Regions from separate parts of the Homo sapiens genome. Here region 2 is linked to region 1. The links come from fine-mapping of genetic effects on gene expression. A gene starts in region 1. The other region holds a variant in brackets. All regions are shown on one strand. Distances are between the middles of the regions. Region 1 holds the start of PRDM6 (PR/SET domain 6). Region 2 holds the start of PPIC (peptidylprolyl isomerase C).

Evidence for each region.
Region 2: its variant is fine-mapped to the expression of PRDM6 in thyroid (GTEx, PIP above 0.99).

Annotation. Positions count from the first base shown.
Region 1 is chr5:123,083,351-123,092,297 of GRCh38, reverse strand. It overlaps PRDM6 (PR/SET domain 6), which reads right to left and starts at 3,057. Exons shown (of 8, transcript NM_001136239.4): 1 at 2,779-3,057; 2 at 1,692-2,298. The coding sequence starts at 2,283. PRDM6-AS1 (PRDM6 antisense RNA 1) reads left to right here and starts at 1,982. Exons shown (of 2, transcript NR_146771.1): 1 at 1,982-2,226; 2 at 4,359-6,067. RefSeq lists enhancers at 3,318-3,862, 3,863-4,407.
Region 2 is chr5:123,034,690-123,043,624 of GRCh38, reverse strand. PPIC (peptidylprolyl isomerase C) reads left to right here and starts at 6,900. Exons shown (of 5, transcript NM_000943.5): 1 at 6,900-7,116. The coding sequence starts at 7,000. PPIC-AS1 (PPIC antisense RNA 1) reads right to left here and starts at 7,703. Exons shown (of 2, transcript XR_001742868.2): 1 at 7,337-7,703. RefSeq lists silencers at 6,674-6,723, 8,032-8,204. The variant A/T (reference allele first, on the strand shown) is at 5,921.

The DNA of each region.
Region 1 (8,947 bases):
CATACCTTTTCCAAGGCAGTTTAAAAATCTTTTTATTTCATAATTTAAAATACTTGCTTCAAAAACACACATTCAAGAAATTCAGTAGGAGATAAGTATTTTTTGAAATCTGTTGGGAGAGTATAATGTTGTAAAACTTTCTGAAACTCTGAAATACAAGTCTTCTCAACTGCACAGCAAAATTAGAGTTGAAACCACTATTTTAAGCCAGTGCTTTACTCTCAAACTTCATAAAGAAAAAAGTAAATACGATTGCTCTTTCTGTTGGTAATTATTATCTCCATCACAGCTATGTCCAACATAATGAAAATATTCATAGACCTCAACCACGAGGCAGTTGCCCAGTGTTTTTTTTTTCATCAAATCAACGACTTAGGGAATCCTTTAAAGAGCTATAACTGAACTTATTTTGCTTTTACAACGAATTAAGAAGTTCACAGAGCGGTAGACATTTTGCAAGAAGCAACTTATTCAAAATTGAATAAAAATAAATGTTTTAAATTAACTTTACTCATACAGAAGCCAGACGAAGGAATGAGATGAAGAAAATAGCTGAATGAATGCTGATCTTTCAAATCCTGTATTGCTTTCAATCTGACGCTCTTAACACACTTTAATGTTATCTCCAGAAGTCTCTGGGAGCACGTTTAACACTCCCAACACAGTATAGGTGTAAACACAGTATAACTTCTGAAATTATCAAAAAGAAGCAGGTATAAAGCAGTACATATTGCTTGATCTTCATTTAGAGTTTTGCTTCAAAACCGCCAAATGGAACTGTACTTGTGATAAGCGTTTCAAATTGTGAATATAGAAACCGAAGCTACAGGAATTCTGATGTTTAGTTAGGCATTTGCTATTAACTTGGAGGAAGAGGGGAGTAAGCGTCTTTTACTAAATTACAGTCACCCTAATTTCTAAAAATAAATACATAAACCAACATGGGTTATGAATGTTTGCGGGGTCAAAGGTGCGCGGATAAAGCGGGATCAGCGGAATCGGAGGAGAACAGAAATTTTCTTCTCAGTAAGTAGCAGTCATTTTTTTTTCTTTTCCTTCTTTTTAAATGAATAGTAGATCTAAGAATACTGCCTGCCTTCAAGGAGAAACGGACTCAGTTTCATCTAAAATTCCTACTCCAGTGAGGCCTGGCCAGCGAACAGCTCCCGCCGGTTCCCCCACAACCCCGCGGCCCGAAAATGACCCCTCCAGAGGTGGGGTGGAGAGTAGCAAAAACAAGCCCTGGTCTGCGTGCTCCCCAGAGACGCTGAGGGTCCCTCCCTCGTCCCGGCTAAGGCCAGGCAGGGCCTGACCCAGACACCCCCTGTCACACGCTGCCAGTACCCGCCTGGCCCCGGGCACTGTCCGGCGGGAGGGCAGAGGTCTGTTAGGCCGGGTCCACGGTAGACTCCGGCCCCAAACACTTGGGACTGTGAAGCAGGTGAGGAGAGGGAGGGAGAGGGAACCCCAAAGTGCCACCGGCCGTCCCATCCGTTCTCTTTCCTTCTCCAACGCCAGAAAACTTTTGTCACAGAGATCGGGGAGGCGCGGGCCAGCGGCCAGGACCAGGTGCTCCCCACCCACCCGGCCCCGTGTCACTCCTATCCGACCCGCCTCCCTGACAGGCACCCGCGCCCGCCGGCGCCGGCGCCGGCGCCCCGGGAGAGAGCGCGCGGGCTGCGGCTACGTACGGTTGTTGGGGTCGCTGGTGTGCTGGTTGAGCGGGATGATCTCCATGCGCTGCTGGCCATACAGGTAATAGTCCAGCTCCTCTGCGCTGCAGCGGAAGCGCGGGGCGCCGCGACCCTCCCCGCCGCCGCCGCCACCACCACCGCACTTGACGGGCCCGGGGCCGGAGGTGGCGCCGAGGCACAGTTCCTTGGGGGGCAGCGGCTCGGCGGCGACGGCAGCGGCGGCTAGAGGCGCGAACACCGGCAGCTGCGACACCGGCAGGGCCGAGAGACCAGCCAGCGCGGCGGCAGCGGCCGCAGCAGCGCAGGAGGAGGCGGAGGAGGCGGAGGTGGAAGAGGAAGCCGGCGTGGACGAGGCGGAGGAGAGAGAGGCGGGCCGCGGGCGCAGGCTGTCCGGCGGAGGCTCAGCGCGCTCCGGGGGCGGGGGCGGCGGCGGCGGCTGAAGAGGCTGCGGCGCGCTCAGGAGACCCGCGGCGCCGCTGCCCTTGAGCGGGCCTGCGCCTCCGTGAGGGAAGAGTTGCTGCCAGTGCTGCAGGTAGGCTGGGTCCACTTTGAGGAAGGCCGAACCGCCGGGGTCTCCGGGCTTCAGCATGTCCGGCGCCTCGAACTGGGGGCAGAGGGCAGGGAAGAGGGGGCGCGTGAGCTGGGCGAAAGGGGCCGGGAAGAGGGCCACTGGGACCCTGGAGAAAGTGCCCGAGCCGGTGGTTCAGCCGGCGGCCGCCCGGTTCCGCGGCTCCCTCTTCCCAACTCCGCTTGGGCGCAAAGTTTACTCCGAAGCTGCGGCGCCGCACAGAGGGAGCTGTGTGCACCCTGCTCTGCCTCCCCGATCGCAGCGTCCAGCTCCCATCCAGCAATGCTGGGGCCCGACAGGAGGGCGCTGCCCCGTAGAACTCGGCTGCAGGACGCAGCCCCCGCCCTCAGCCAGCGCCCGGAGCCGACCCGAGCCGGCGTGGCGCAGCGCCCGAGCCGCGTTGGCCTCAGGCGCCAGGAGGCAGAACAGTCTCGCCGCCCGCCCCCAACCTAGGACCACCAACCTTCCTATCTACCAAGCCCTAGACTCTTAAGTCCCAGACCAGCCTCACCTTACCTGAAAACTCGGTGCTGCCGGTGGGTGCGTGCGGGTGTCTCGGTGAGCGTGCGGGTGCGCGAGAGTGTGCGCCCTGCGTGCGCTACATGCCCCTGAGCAGCGCGGGAGGAGAGTCCTAGAGATTGTGCCGCCCGGAAACCTCCCGACCTGCAAGCGAGAAAATTGGGAGGCCCGCGGAGGGCGCGAGAGTGCGGACGGACCTGGGCGCCCGACTCAACCGCCGTGGGCTGCTGCGCTTGGCCGCTGCCGCGTCCTGGCTCCTTGGTTCCACGCTCTGGCAGCTTCCCGGCTGGACACGTGGGTTTTACGACAGCACAAAATAGAGTGAGTGTGTGTGTGTGTGTGTGTGTGTGTGTGTGTGTGTGTGTGTGTGTGTGTGTGTGTGTGTGTGTGAGAGAGAGAGAGAGAGAGAGAGAGAGAGAGAGAGAGAGAGAGAGAGAGAACGGAGGGGGGAGGGGAGGCAGGCCAGAAGAAGGGGAGGGGAGAGGGAAGAAGGAAGTTCTAATTCGGCCCGACCCACATCGCCAGAGCGCCTTTCCCGCACAAACTCCTCCGCCCTCCCATCCCCTGTTTTTTTGGCGTGACGTCTGCCGCTAGCCTGTTGTCTCTTTCTGCCCATGATATGTCTTTTCTGGGTCCCAGCTCAGTGCCCTGATCTTGAAAGCAGTGGAAATGCGGCAACGGGAATGCATCTCCGCACACGCTGTGGTGTCCGCGCTGGAGCAAGCCCGCGCCGCCAGGACCGGGTTTGCGCTTTTGCCCGGCTCAGTTTTTCCTGAAGTGCTTCTGGGTGCCAGAGTCCACTCGCCCGCCACGCAACCTCTAACATAAATCCTCCGGGGAGAAAAGTTGGGGGCGGAGCGGGACGGGTTGCGCGCTGCAGTGAAACCCTCTGTCTGCAGCCCAGGAGGGAGGCTTGTCGGTGCAGGGAGGCGTAGGACCGAGGGTCCTGAGACCGAGAGCAGCTGGTCCTGGAGGGACTCAAGCTTGGCCGTGGGGCTGGGAGGCGGCTGCAATGGAGTCTGCACTCCACCCAGCGCTCTGCTGACCCCTTCTCGGGTTGTCTTCTGGAGGGCTCTTTCCCTCTCCTTCTTGGGGCCCGGAGACAAGTATCCAGTGTTACGTCTGGTGGCACAACTGCTCCGGGACACGGGCGAGGCTGTTTGCGGTCAGCTGCCTGCGGCTGCCGCAGGAGGTCACGCATAGGTTTCTCTACCCAAAACCTGGTGTTAGAGGGGCAGGGTGGGAGTGCAGCCCCACCTCCACCATGTCCTCTCCCCAGACTTTGTGCCAGGGCAGCCCTTCGATGCAGTCTCGCACCCACGAAGGAGGCACTTGCCCCCCAGCTCTTCCTGGCATTTTCGGTAGTAGATGGTAGAGGGCACAGGCAGGGTGTGTGAAATTGACCGACTCAGGAGGTACTTTCCCATCGCCGGGGTTCTGGCCATACCGTAAAGAGAAGAAACGGCATTTATCTTTTTCCAAACAACCTAACTTATTTAGCACTTGCCAATCTGAGCAATTAATAGCCATTCTTTCCTGATTTCTGCTTGTTTCTTTTTCTCTTCCCACCACTCAAGTTTTCTGAACCTGGGAAACGTGCTGTTCAGACTTCATCCGGGTCTCATTCAGGATGCTTCGATGTTGGTTGGAAGAGAGTTAGACCGAAAATGTTTTGACTGGCGTCGTTATGACAAGGTCATCCGTCATTGTTGGATAGATTGATAGCACCCAAGTTTAAGGCAGACACCACGAGGGAAAGCCCACGGCGCTGTGGTCCCGGAGGCTAACCAGGCAGTGTCCGCAGACCTCCAGCAACTCCATCGGGAGGAGAGGATGAAGTTCCAGGCCCGTTTCAATTAATCTGCTCGCAGAACTGCCGAAGAGTGGCTTGTCGGGCCACGGGAGAAGAAACAAATGCTCTTTCTCACACTCTCCTGGTTCATTGCTGAGAAACCAGGACACTCCTCTGTTCCCTGGGAGAGACAGTGAACTCCAGGGATGGAAGTCCGGACTCCGGCGGCGGTCCCGTCATTTGCCTTCTTGTTTCTGCCCAAACCCAGCTAGTTCCAAGCGCTTGGTCCCCAAGACTGGAAGTCCCCAAGAACCTACCTCTACCTGTCCCAACCCTGCCTCCCCCCTACCCTTTCACCCCCTGCCACCATTAGAAAGTCTCTGGATTTTGAAATGCTAGTTGCAGCAGCTGCTTCCGTGGCCTCATGCCGCCCACACTCTGGGAAGCGGAGGAGGGAGGGTTCCTCTCGTAATAAGATTAGCTGACCTGTTAATGAGAGTTTTGGACGTGCCGGGCGGGGGTAGGCGCTTTATGTCCATTTAATCCACCTACATGCGGAGAAGGCATTATCATTAACCCCCATATTGTAGATGGGGACCGCTGAGGTTCGGAAAGTTTAGATGGGTTGCCTAAGGTCACGCCATTAATGAGTAATGGAGACGGATTCAAATACCGTTCGGTAAGGTGCCAAGTGCATCTTCTGCCTACCCTAGTCCAACCTGTAGCCACTCGGTCCAGACTGACGCCAGAGGGGCTATCATGGGAGAGATTTGGTTCCCCTCGCTGCGGGGTCCAGGGAAGAAGCTGAGAAGGTAGCAAAGTCCCCCTCGCCCACTACGTCTACAGGTGGCGTACCTGGGTAATCCGATTCAAGCTTCCGCCACACCCACCCCGGGCACAAGTCGATCCCGAGGCTTACGGGACCCTAAGGCCCAGAGGCTACAGGAACCTCCCGTGAAGGGGGCAGGAGAAAGTTTGAGGGAGAGCCCTGAAGGTCCGGGAGCGAACGAAAAAGTCTGGAAGGGAATAGACCAGGAGTCAGGACCTCCCCTGCACCTCCCCAGCAGGCCCACTGCGCCGAGCGGGGCCCCTGCCTCCACCGCGGCTTCCGGGATGCCCGCAGAGCTCGGCATCCTCACCCGGTGCGCACAAGGGCGCGCAGCGGCGTAAGCTGGACCCCCGACGCTGCGCGCGCTCTGAGGGGCGCTTCCCCCTCACACAGTTGACCCTGGGCCCGCTTGGTCACGGCCACCCTGGCGCATCTCAATAGTTTTTAGAAAGTGAGCCCACCGACGGCAAGGACATGCACCCCCTCAAATCCGCTTCCCCCACCCCCTTCAATACTGAGAAGACCACGGAAACAAATCACTTCGACCACTTAGAAAGCGATCAAACCTTTATAAAAATCCATCGCTCCCAAATCGATGGGTGAATATTTGCTGGGAATTTGTTCCAGAGGAATAAATGAGGAGCCTTGAGTGTATTAAATGCAAACGGGGGGACACGGTGGTGTTTTTCTTCATTGATTAATGACCTCTAAAATAAAACAAGTGGGAAGAGGAGCCAGGATCGATAAATTACCCAAATTCATCATTTTCTCGAGCATTTTCGCCCCGAAAATTATCCTTGGGAAGCCCATTGTACCCTGAGCTGGGAGGGGAAGGATGTAGCTGGAGGCCAGGGTAGGGAGGGAGCAGCAGAAGGGGTAGGAGGAGAGAAGGGGGTTCTGTCCAGGAGACCCTCTATCTGATTCCGTTTAACATACAATTCAAAAGTTTGCCTTTCATATTATTTTTTCTTGATGGGGGAGTGGAACAAATGGTCGGTTGCCTTTGACAGGACTCCAATAAAGGATTCAGCAGCTCTCCGCTCTGCCCTGGGTGCTCCTGCTTCTAGTAGGTTTAAGGTCACGGGTGGCTGAGTTAATAATTCATTAATATAGACATTTATTCAGAAGGGTTCGCTGAGATCCACTCTTCCTGCCTCCTCCCAGAGATTTGTTTTCCTAGGAAATGGATGGGGGTGGGGGGTGGGCTGCAGGTGAAAGGAGGGGGGCGGGAGGAGAAGGAAAGGCTGGATGTAGCTAGGAGGAATCTTTGCTGAGCCGTATTAGCAGACAGGTCCCTTGAGCCTGCCAGCAAAAACTTGGTTGAAAATGTGGTATCTAAACAGCACAGAGACTCTGGCCTGCGGTGGCCCTTTTTCCTTCCATACCTGTTCATTCGCTTGTTTAGAAAGCTCCTTTCCTCCATGGTTTGGGACCAGGGAGGAGCCTTCTCACTGAGGATCTTGGATTGCAGGCAAAAGGGAAAGCTGTGAGAAAAAAACAGGACCCCACCCCCATCCCTATGAGGTTCCCAAGGGAGGAGCTTTGAAACTTGCCCAGACTTGGAATCTAAGGGAACCTCCTCTCCTGAGGGCACAGGCAACTTTTGGAGGACACTCCACCCCTCAGAAATGGGATCATGGAGAAGGGGGTTGGAGGCGGAGACTGAAAGTAAATAGTAAGTAATAAATCAGTAATGGTTAGATGGGAATAAGTGCTATGGAAAGCAATAAAGGATAGAGGGAAAGGGAGTGCATGTAGGTGGAAGGAGTTACTGTTTTACATATAGTGGCCAGGGAAAGCTTCTGTTAGAAAGTGAAATTTAAATAGAGACTTGAAGCAAGAAGATGCCAGTTTTCTGTCCAGAGCGGGATATTCCCTGCCCTAACCTATAGCCAGTGGCTAAAGCAGTAAAAGGGGCCTCTCCTGAAGAACTGTCAAGGATTTGCCTCCTCGCTACTGGCCACACTTGCTTCCCTTAAGCTGCTGTGTACTACTCGATATTCTTTCAGTACCTCCATTGACTGTTCTCATCAATTGGAGTCGCCTAACTTGCTGGTAACTTAGACCCTGACACGGTGACCGACCTCCAACTATCTGGACCTCAATTTCTTCAACAGTCCAAAGAAGAGGCAGGACAAATGCAGTGTTCTGTCCTAAGCTTTTATGAAGCAGCTACCGAATTCTGACCTCCCCACCCTATTACATATTTTATACCCTACTCCTGCATGCTGTGAGTCTAAGATGAGCAGGGTGTAAAATGTATTGCCCAACTAAAAACTAGAAAACCCTCACCATTAATTTTAATCACTGCAGTCTGCCCGTTGATCCCTTTGCATCTTCACTTGTTCATCCTTACTTAGTGACAGAAGACAGCGCCAGCCACCATTGGAAAGAAAGGGTGCGAGGAGTGAGGCAGAGGAGATAGAAGGCAGTGAAATGCTTAGCACACAGAAGCCAGCTCTGGCCTCAGGTGATGCAGCAGGTGCCTCGCCATTCATCTGACATACCCTCCTCTTCTGAGGCCTTGGCAATTTAGACATGTCCTTCCCTCAGCTTTCCTCCTCTCACAAAAGTACTTGGAAGTTCAGCTCCTCACTTTGCCAGGTCAAAAATGGCCTCTGGGTCCGGGAGACCAAGCCCAGGAGATTTGTGACCACTCTCTTTCATCCTCCGCCAGGACCCTGGCAGACAGCACCTATTCACGTTACTTGAAATGCAGCCGAAGCCTCCAGTTCCTTTCACCCTGGTCACCCAACAGCTGCCAGTCAAATGATGCCTCTCAGCCACCTCAGGCCTGATTTGGATTTGACCTACTGACCTTGAGGTGAAAGGCTCTGCAGTCCATTATGAATCCCTGGGGCCAGTTCATTCTCCCAGGAAAGCCTCTAAATATATCCTTTCCGTTTGCAGGGAAATCAGCTATTATAATTTGCAAAGGTCTCGTGAGTTTAAAACATATTGGTGGCAGTTCAGTCCCATAAAGATTTAATGAATAGCAACTGGGTGAAAAACAACTCCTTTTTTTTTTTTTTTTGTCTTGACAAGTCAAGGAAAAGAGAAATGATTAGACAAGAATAGCTATCCCTTCAGAAACTCACAAATTCCCTTCACTATCTCCTTCCCATCCCACCCTTTCCCCAGGAATTTAATCTTATATTTTTCCAAGTATCTGTAAGAATAGACAAACCCAATTATAGTTACCTACAATTTAACAGCTGTACAGAATATCTAATGAACACATACTGTGTGCACGAGACTATTGGTAGGGATCTCTGGGACAATCTTCTTTGAAGCTCTTCTAGCAAATGCTACCTGGTTCAGACACAGTCTTCTGTTGGTCACCAGATTGTTGCTTAAATTAGTTGAAGCTTATAGGACTTCAGTCATAACCAGGATGAGGTAAGCATGTTACAGTACATCTGTTCGAATTAGAAACATATGCTATGGTTGATTCACCTTCTGAGGGTTGGCAGTTCCTAGTGCATGGTAGGTTCCCCTGAGTGCCCAGCAACAGTCTCTAGGAGCAGCTTCCAGCTACCCTCTAA
Region 2 (8,935 bases), 49 kb after region 1:
TGGTTTTGTCCAGGTTGGCAAATAAAAGCAAGATTCGTTTTTAATCCCTTAAAGATTTTGTCACTGAAAGTTTGGCAGGGGCAGGTAGTAAAGGAGCAGAACATTTGCCTAAATGATTAGCTCCAGAAAAAGATGCTAGGCACATTAAAGACAAGAACAGTATGAGAGCCCCAGTAACTTCAGCCCTGATCTCGGGTTCTAGCTAGGAGACCCTAGTGCCTCCTGGATGATCTCAGGTCACTGTACATTTCCCTCATTCTGACATTTAAAGGAAATTTCCCAAGCAGAATTCATCATTCAAATAAATAGCTAGTAATTAACAAGGGTTTAGGCATTTACTTGCTAAAAGTGAATGTAATTTAACAAAGGCATTTGTGCCAGTTCCGTCTTAGTTTGAGAGGAAGGTAATATTTGACTTAACTAAGATGTTATTTACATAAATGAGGGAAGAAATTGATATAGCGGACAAAAAATAAATAAAGAGTTTTATAAAAGACATTGACATGCAGCTTTGAGAGCCACATTTATTTTACAAGTAGCAGAAATCTAAAACTTGCTTCTAATAAGCTAGGGGGAAAACACTAAATGTGACAAAACTGTACCCTTTGGTACTCATAAATGATTAATAAATGAAACACAAACAGTCTGTGATGGATCAAAACTACAACAAAAGAAGCAAGCTACAAAAATGTTATGCTGCCATTGTTTATTTTAGTATTACAAAAGATAACTGCTAGCAGATTAGCTAATCTTCTTATAATTCATCCATGTACTGTTTGGATTTCATGTCATGGTCTTACATTTTATTTATAATTTTAATTGTACAGTTTTACAGTATATTACTTCAAATGTCTTGTGCATGTAAAAGACAGTATAGAGAAATATGCATAAATGAAAGTAATTGGGCCAGGCGCAGTGGCTCACGCCTGTAATCCCACACTTTGGGAGGCTGAAGCGGGTGAATCACCTGAGGTCAGACATTCAAGATCAGCCTGGCCAACATGGCGAAACCCCGTCTCTACTAAAAATACAAAAATTAGCCCAGTGTGGTGGGAGGCACCTGTAATCGCAGCTACTTGGGAGGCTGAGTCAGGAGAATCACTTGAACCTGGGAGGCAGAGATTGAAGTGAGCTGAGATCTGCCACTGCACTCCAGGCCTCCAGGCATGGGGTGACAGAGTGAGACTCCGTCTCCAAAAAAAAAAAAAAAAAAAAAAAAGAAAAGAAAGTAATTGTACGAGGGTAGTGAGATTGATTATAATTGACTTTTCAAGAGTTAATGACTGGGAATTTTCTAAACTTGGTAAAGAGTCAGAAATCCTGAGTCCCAAGTAGGATAAGTAAAAAGAAATCTACATTTAAGCAAATTCTAATAAAACTGCTTTAAAATCAAAATATAGAGAGATAAATGTTAAAATCATTCAGATTTTAAAAAACAAATCACTTTCAAAGGAGCAACAATTAGACTAATAGTGGATTTTCCAACAGAAATAATGGAAGCTAGAAGTCAAAGGAAGTAACATATTGATACTACAGAAATAAAATAGTTTTATACTGGGCAAAAATATCCTTCAGGAATAAAGTCAAGTAAAGACATTTTCAGGCAAATAAAAATAAAATAATTTGTTGCCAGCAGACTAGCAGTTAAGGAAATACCAAATGTACTTCTTCAGGCAGAAAGAAAATGGCCACATAAAGTCTGAAATGCAAGAAGTAATGAAGAGCAATGAAAATGTAAATATGTGGATATATCTAAGTGTATATAACTTTATTAAACAATAATAATTGTGTCATGGGGTAAAATAAAATACATGACAACAAAGGCATACAATTCTTAAGAAGGGAAAAGGAGGTAAGTGTCCTGAGCTTTTTGCATTACCCAGAGAGTAAAGGTGACAAGTAATGGTAGGCTTTAAGGAATCAAGAATATATACTGTAATCTCTAGTATAACTACTGAAAGAATAATAAAAGAACATATAATGGACCAATCCAGTAGACGGAGAATTAATATCAGACTTTAAGGCAAAACACATTATTAGAAATAAAGAATGATACTACATAATGATAAGATAATTTAATTAATCAAAAGATAATTTTAGATGTGTTTGCATTCAATAGGGTCTCAAAAATATATAAAGAAACATATAAAGAAAAAATTTACAGACCTACAAGGAGAAATAAACAAACTAGAGTCAATGATGAAATTGATTTTTAACACACTTCTCTCAGTAACTCTTATAACAAGCAGATAAAAGTAAGGATAGAGATATGAATTGATCTAATGAACACATATGTAGAATACTATATCTAACGAGGGCAGAATCAAATAAATTGTTCAGATCCTATGTGATAATGCAAGTCTCTACATATTTTAAAAGAATGAAATAATACAGAATATGTTCTCTGACCACAATACAACTAAGTTAGAAATCACTAACAAAAGGATTTTTTAAAAATCATGTTTGGAAATAAAGTACTATACCTTTATATAACACATGGGTCAAAAAAGAAATAAAAATATAAGTTAGAAATTATTTTCAAAGAATAATGAAAATATGACATATCAAAACGTTCAAGAAGTGCAAGGGGAACTTTATCATTTTAACTGTATACAGAGTACTATATAAAAAAAGGAAGGGCTTTAAAAATTGATGAGTTAAGAGTCTATCCAAGAAGACAGAAAAATAACAGTAAATTAAACTCAAAGAAAGCAGAGAGAAGGAAATAATAAAGTTAGAACATAAATTAATAAGATAAAATATATTGGATTCATCAGCTTCCTTGGTGAAACTGTTCAAGGAAAACAAGAAAAGAAACAACCAATGTCAGGAATGAAAAAGAAGACATTACTACAGGTCCCGCAGACCTACAAAATCATTAAAAAATGTTTTAAACAACTTTATAAAACAATATTTTAAAATATAAATAAAATGGATATATTCCTTGAAAAATACTTCAAGTAAAGGAACAGAATAGAGAATTTGAATAATCTCCAACTATTTTAAAAGTTAAATATATAATTTAGAATGTTACAATAAAGAAAACTCCAGGCTCAGATGGCTTCTAAGAAACATTCAAGGAAGAAATGGTAATCTTACACAAACCCTTTAAGAGTAGGGGAAAAACAGCTACCATTTGCCAACTCATATTAAGAGGCCAGAACAACTCTAATACAAAAGCTGAGAGGAAACTCCAATAAAGGAAAATTTCAGGCTAGTCTCATTCAAGAATTTAGATGCAAATATCCTGAAAATAAGATTAGCAGATTTACCCACTAACACTGAAATGACATGTGGGTGACGAACTCAGTCTCAGCTGGACAGCCAGAGCCACATTTTACCCACTCTTTTCTTCCTGAACTTCAGAAGATAGTCTATATTCAGTTTTTGGCAACTTTGTTAATAAACTGATATTGCCAAACCACATCTAGTAATATATAAAAAGGATAATCCATGTTGGACACATTCCAGAATGTAAGCTTGGGTTAAGATTTGAAAATCAATGCAATTCATCACATTAACAGAGTAAGAGAATCACATAATTATTTCAATTGATTTCAATAGATGATGTTAATAAAATTTAAATCAAATATATGCTAAAAACTCTTAGCAAACAAGGACTAGAAAGGAATTTTCTGAATCTGAAAAAAGATATCCCCCAAAAGGACCTTCAGCAAATATCATGCCTAATGGTGAAACACTGAAGCTTTCCCTCTGACACTGGGACCAAGACAAGGTGTATGAGCCCCCTAGGGCTGCTGTAACAAAGTGCCACAAACTGGGTGACTTCAAACAAGAGAAATGCATTGTCTCACAGTTCTGGAAACTAGCAGCTGAGATCAAGGTGTTGGCAAGGCCATGCTGTCTTTGAAGGCTCTAGGGGCAAATCCTTCCTTGCCTCTTCCTAGCTTCTGGGGGTTGCCAGCAATCTTTGGCATCCCTTGTCTTGTAGATACAGCACTCCAATCTCTGCCTCCATCCTCATATGGTGTTCTCTGTGCGTGTGTCTGTGTCTGTTCCCTTTTTATGAGGACACAAGTCATATTAGAGTAGGGCAAACCCTACTCCAGTATGATTTCATCTTAACTTGATTACGTCTGCAAAGGCAGTCCAAATAAGGTCACATTCACAGATACCAAGGTTTAGGACTTCAATATATCTTTTTGGAGGATAATTCAGTCTACAATACAAGGACTCCCACTGTTGCCACTTCCTTTTGTACTGCAGATCCCAGCCAGTGTAAAAAGGCCAAAAAAGAAATACAAAATGTAAAGATTAGAAAAGAAGAAATAAAACTGTCATTATTCATGGATGACATAATTGTCTATGGAGAAAATCCTAAACAATTCACAGATAAATTATTAGAATATGTTTAACAAGGTTGGTATATACAAAGTTAATATATAAATTAATTTTACTACAATACATGACAATAGCATAAAAAAACACTTAGAAATCAAACTAATAAAATACGTGTAAGACCTCTGGGCAGAAAGCTATAAAATCTTATTGAGAGAAACCAAAGAAGACTTAAATATGCTATGTTCATGAATTAGAAGACTCAATATTGTAAATTTGCCAAGTCTTAAATGGTCTACAGATGCAGTGCAATCCCCATCAAAATCTCAGTGTGTGGAAACTGACAGGCTGATTCTCAAGTTATATGGACATGGAAAAGCTCAAGAACAGCCAAGAATTTGTTGAACAAAGCTAAGAGGGTATGTATTACTGAATATGAAGAGTTATTATAAAGCTATTTTAATGAAGACAATGTAGTATTGGCACAAAGACAGACAAATAGGCCAATGGGACAGATAGGGTGCCCACAAACACACCTATGCATACATGGGCACTTGCTCTGTGACAGAAGAACAGTATGGAGCGGTGAGTTAAAGGGGAGAATTTTCAATAAACTGTACTGAAATAAATGAATATTCTTATGAAAAAAATGAATTTGCTTCCTACTTTGTATTAGCCACCAAAATAGTTATATGCAAAAATATAGATGAATTTCACAAAAATTTAAGCAAAAAGAAATACATACGGTAATACCCTATTCAAATAAAATTAAAACAAAATTAAACTATAGTACAAGAAAAGTCAGGATTGCAGTTAATTTGGGCAGAAAAAAGTGTTTGTAACTGGCAGAGGGTATAAGAGGAGTTTCTAGGGAGCTGGGAAAGATTTCATTTCTTTGCCTAGAGGGTGAGATGGTGGTAGCATAAAAAGTAGTTGGACACATTCATTCATTCAACAAATAGTTATTGAGAAATCACTATATATCAGGCATTGCACTAGATCTGGGTCATCAAAGGGGAATAAATATAGGCCTGATCCCTGCCCTGGCCCTGCTTACTTCTGATAGCAGACAGACAAAAACAATTAATGAACACAGATAAATATATACAATCACCTCACAGTCACCTCGTAGGGTAAGTGCTCTGAGAGATACCCTTGTCTTGCTACACAAGGGGGACTCTTTCCTTATTGGGGGTGGGGATGAAGAGGAAAGCCATTAGGTCTTTCACTGGACTGAATCATAAAAATAGCTCAGAATTGCATTTCTCCTTTTTCTCACCCCAAAGAAGTAGTGGTTACTCCTTTTATCTCTAATGGTTCCAATGTCATTTTAGATCTACACTTAGGTACACCTAGGAATCCCATCTGACATTTAGAAATTCCATCTCTTAATCCGAGGAAAATCTTGGCTTGAAAGTAATGGCACCAGCCCCTTAAAATGGCACCTATGTGCGAATACCACTAATTTTTAGTTAATTTTAGGGCTGTTACTCTAAAACAAAAAAGTTCTTTTGAAATTCTAATTCAAAAAGCAATGAGTTTTAAAATAACCCTTTCCATGTTATAAAATACTTATATGCTCATTGTAGAACATCTGGGAAATCAGAAAACTGTAAAAAAA[A/T]TTTTTTTAAACCCTCAAAAATCCATAAGTCTATCAATAGCTATCAATTCTATCTATAGCTACTGTAAACGTTGTGGTACATCTCTTTCAATATTTAAGTGCCTTGATATATTTATTTTCACGGTTGAGATCAGAATTTGTGGTTTTGCAACCCGAATTTTCCATTTAAAAATATAATAAGAACTTACTTCCCCAGTCATTAATCTTCCTAAACATAATTCTTAAGTTTGTAAAAAATCCATCCTACAGATACACCTAAAAGTCAGTTTATTTACTTTGTTTCCCCAGGAAAGAATCCTACATGACCATGGTTCTGGGCCTGTGTAAGTGCTGCCTTGTGAACAGTGTAGATAAGATCACAGAATCATCCTCCAAATAAAGTACTTAAAGCCAATGTAAAAGTTTTTCGAAGGCAAAGGGGCACTGTGAATCCAGCATTTTCCAGTGTTCCCTAGACGTGAATCATCTCAAAGAGAGGCCATTATTCGAGTGCAACAGGGCTCCACGCCTCCAGCGATGTCAAAGTTCTGCTAAGCGTCCAAAACCTAGCAAAAGGTTCCAATGGGCCATTGGAACTCGGCGGCCGCGGCGGAGGCTGCTCCCAAGGCGGCAGCAATCACACCGGGACCGGCTGCAGAGTTCCCAGTCCCGCGGAGCGCTAGCTGCCGGGCGGACGCGGAAGCCCGAGAGTCCTGGTCTTCCCGTCCAAGTTTAATCCGCGCCTACGCGGTAAATTCCTGGAGGTGCTCCCAGCCTAGCCCGCTGCGCCCGGCTCCGCGCCTGGGCAACCCGGGCTCCCTCCCGTCCCTGGCGCCCTCCGCACCCGCCTAAGGCGCGGCGGTCGAGCCCTGGCTGCGCCCTGTGGGCGCGCTCCTCCGAATCCCAAGTTCGGGTCGCGAGTCTGAACTTGGGAGGAACGCGCCCCGGGTCCCCGCCCTTCCCGGACTGCCCGATCCCCATCCCCCGCAACCGGGAGCGCGCAGGCGCAGCCGGCCGGCAGTCCCGTCAGCTGTCCCAGAGCCTGTGTCGCGCCCGTGCCGGTAGCGCCCGTGCCGGTAGCGCCGCTGCCACCGCTCACCATGGGCCCGGGTCCTCGGCTGCTGCTACCTCTCGTGCTTTGCGTGGGGCTCGGCGCACTTGTGTTTTCTTCGGGGGCCGAGGGCTTCCGCAAGCGAGGCCCCTCGGTGACGGCCAAGGTGACCGAGAGCGGCGGGCTGCAACTTCCCCTGTTGCGGGCGGGGCCCTGGGGGCGCTTTGGATACTGGGACCTCGGTGTCAGGGCGGGCGAGGTGGAGGCTTCCCGGGCGCAGGGGGACTGGAGGCGGCCGCGGGACTGGGTGGGAGGGGGCTGCTCGCGTGCTGGGAGGCCGGCGCTCCGGGGGAGACCCTGGGGGAGCTGGGCTGAGGCCAGCCTACCTCCGCCGCAGTCTGCTTGGACTTCTTGTCCCGGGTCGGTAGTCCGAGGTGACCAGCCTGGGGGTAGGAGAGGCTTCCGGAACCGGCGGGCCCGTTCTCCAGGAAAGAGACTGCCCAAGTACTTCCTTCAGCGTGGCCTGGGCTCGGGAGCAGAACGAGAGGAATGCGGGGAGGGGGGCGGGACCCGCACAGGAGAGGCGCTCGGAGCCCAGGGCTTGCAGCCGCCCGCCCGCTGCGTGGTCTCCACGCTGGCCGCGGTGGCTTCAGGCAGGCATTAAAGCGCCTGGTTCAGATGAGAGACTACCCTCCGCCTCTTTTGGGGAACCGTCGTCCTTCCCGGGAAGGGGAGGTGCGCCTTCAACTTCGGCGGGCGGGCGGCCCCTGCTGTGGGCTACGCGAGGCCGGGCGAAGGCGGCACCTGTAGACCTGGGGCAGCCTCCACTGCGGGGAAAGGGGGCGGGGGGCTGCCAGAAAGTGCGTCTTTAAGGCTTCCTCGTACTTAACTCCGCTTCAGTTCTTTTTTCAGCGTATTTAACCAAGGGTAGACGATAATGGGAGAATGCAGGGAGAGGGAGGGGATAATTTGGTGCCCATGATCACCACTTCTAGAAAACCCACTGGCAATAGTGTCTTCGAAGCTGAAGCTGGAGGGGGCGGGCTGCAGCTGAAAGTGGTCTTCATCAGTCTGGGGTTTGTCAATGGAAACGATACTAATCAACGAGTAGAATGCTTACATCCTCGACCGCAGACGCCACCTGAGGACGGGGAGGACTAGGGGGTGGGGAGGAGGAGGTCCAGCTCAGCATCTGATGTCGCAGAAAGGCCGTGCCACGTTGTGGGCGGGGCTGATAAACAGCCTGATGGTTTCGAGAAGCTCTGATCTTACTCCCAGCCTCTTGATCTTGTAGGCATGTCTAACTTTGGGAAATGGTTTGTGCAAGGCCACAGAGCTGAACGGGGTCTCTTGGGATAAAGCCATAAACATAAAATTCGCACAATTATGAAATGTTGGAGGAAATAAACTGTAATATACTTTGGGTGACATTTAAAAATAGCTGAAAAATGAGAAAAACCAGCGCAGAGAAGACTAAGGAGGCAAAGGGAACTGCATATGCATAGGTCCTCAAACAGGAAAGCCCTCCCTGCATTCAGAGGATGTGGAGAGGACGGAATGGCTTCAGCACAGAATGAGAGGTGACTTGAGATGAGGTTGGAGGGGTGAGCAGCAGCGGAATCACACAGGGCCTTAGAGGCTGCAGGTAGGCATGCGGGTATTGAGGCAATTCTTAAAATTTGAAGTGTTATTCTGCAGTCAGAGCCACTGAAGGGTTTTAAGCATAAGAATGGCATGATCTCAATATATACTCGAGAAATTTATGTGGTCACTCAGTGGAGAGTGAAATGGGAGGTCATTCAGGGCACCATGCCAGAGTCCAGATGGTGGCTTGGATTAGGGTGGTAATCATTGAAATGGGGAGCAAGGGAAGGACTTGAAATAGATTTTGGAGATATAACTAACAGGAGTTGCTGACGGTTTAGAAAGGGGGCGAGGGAGAGGGAATAGGATTGCCAAATAAAATACAGGATGCCCAGTTAGAT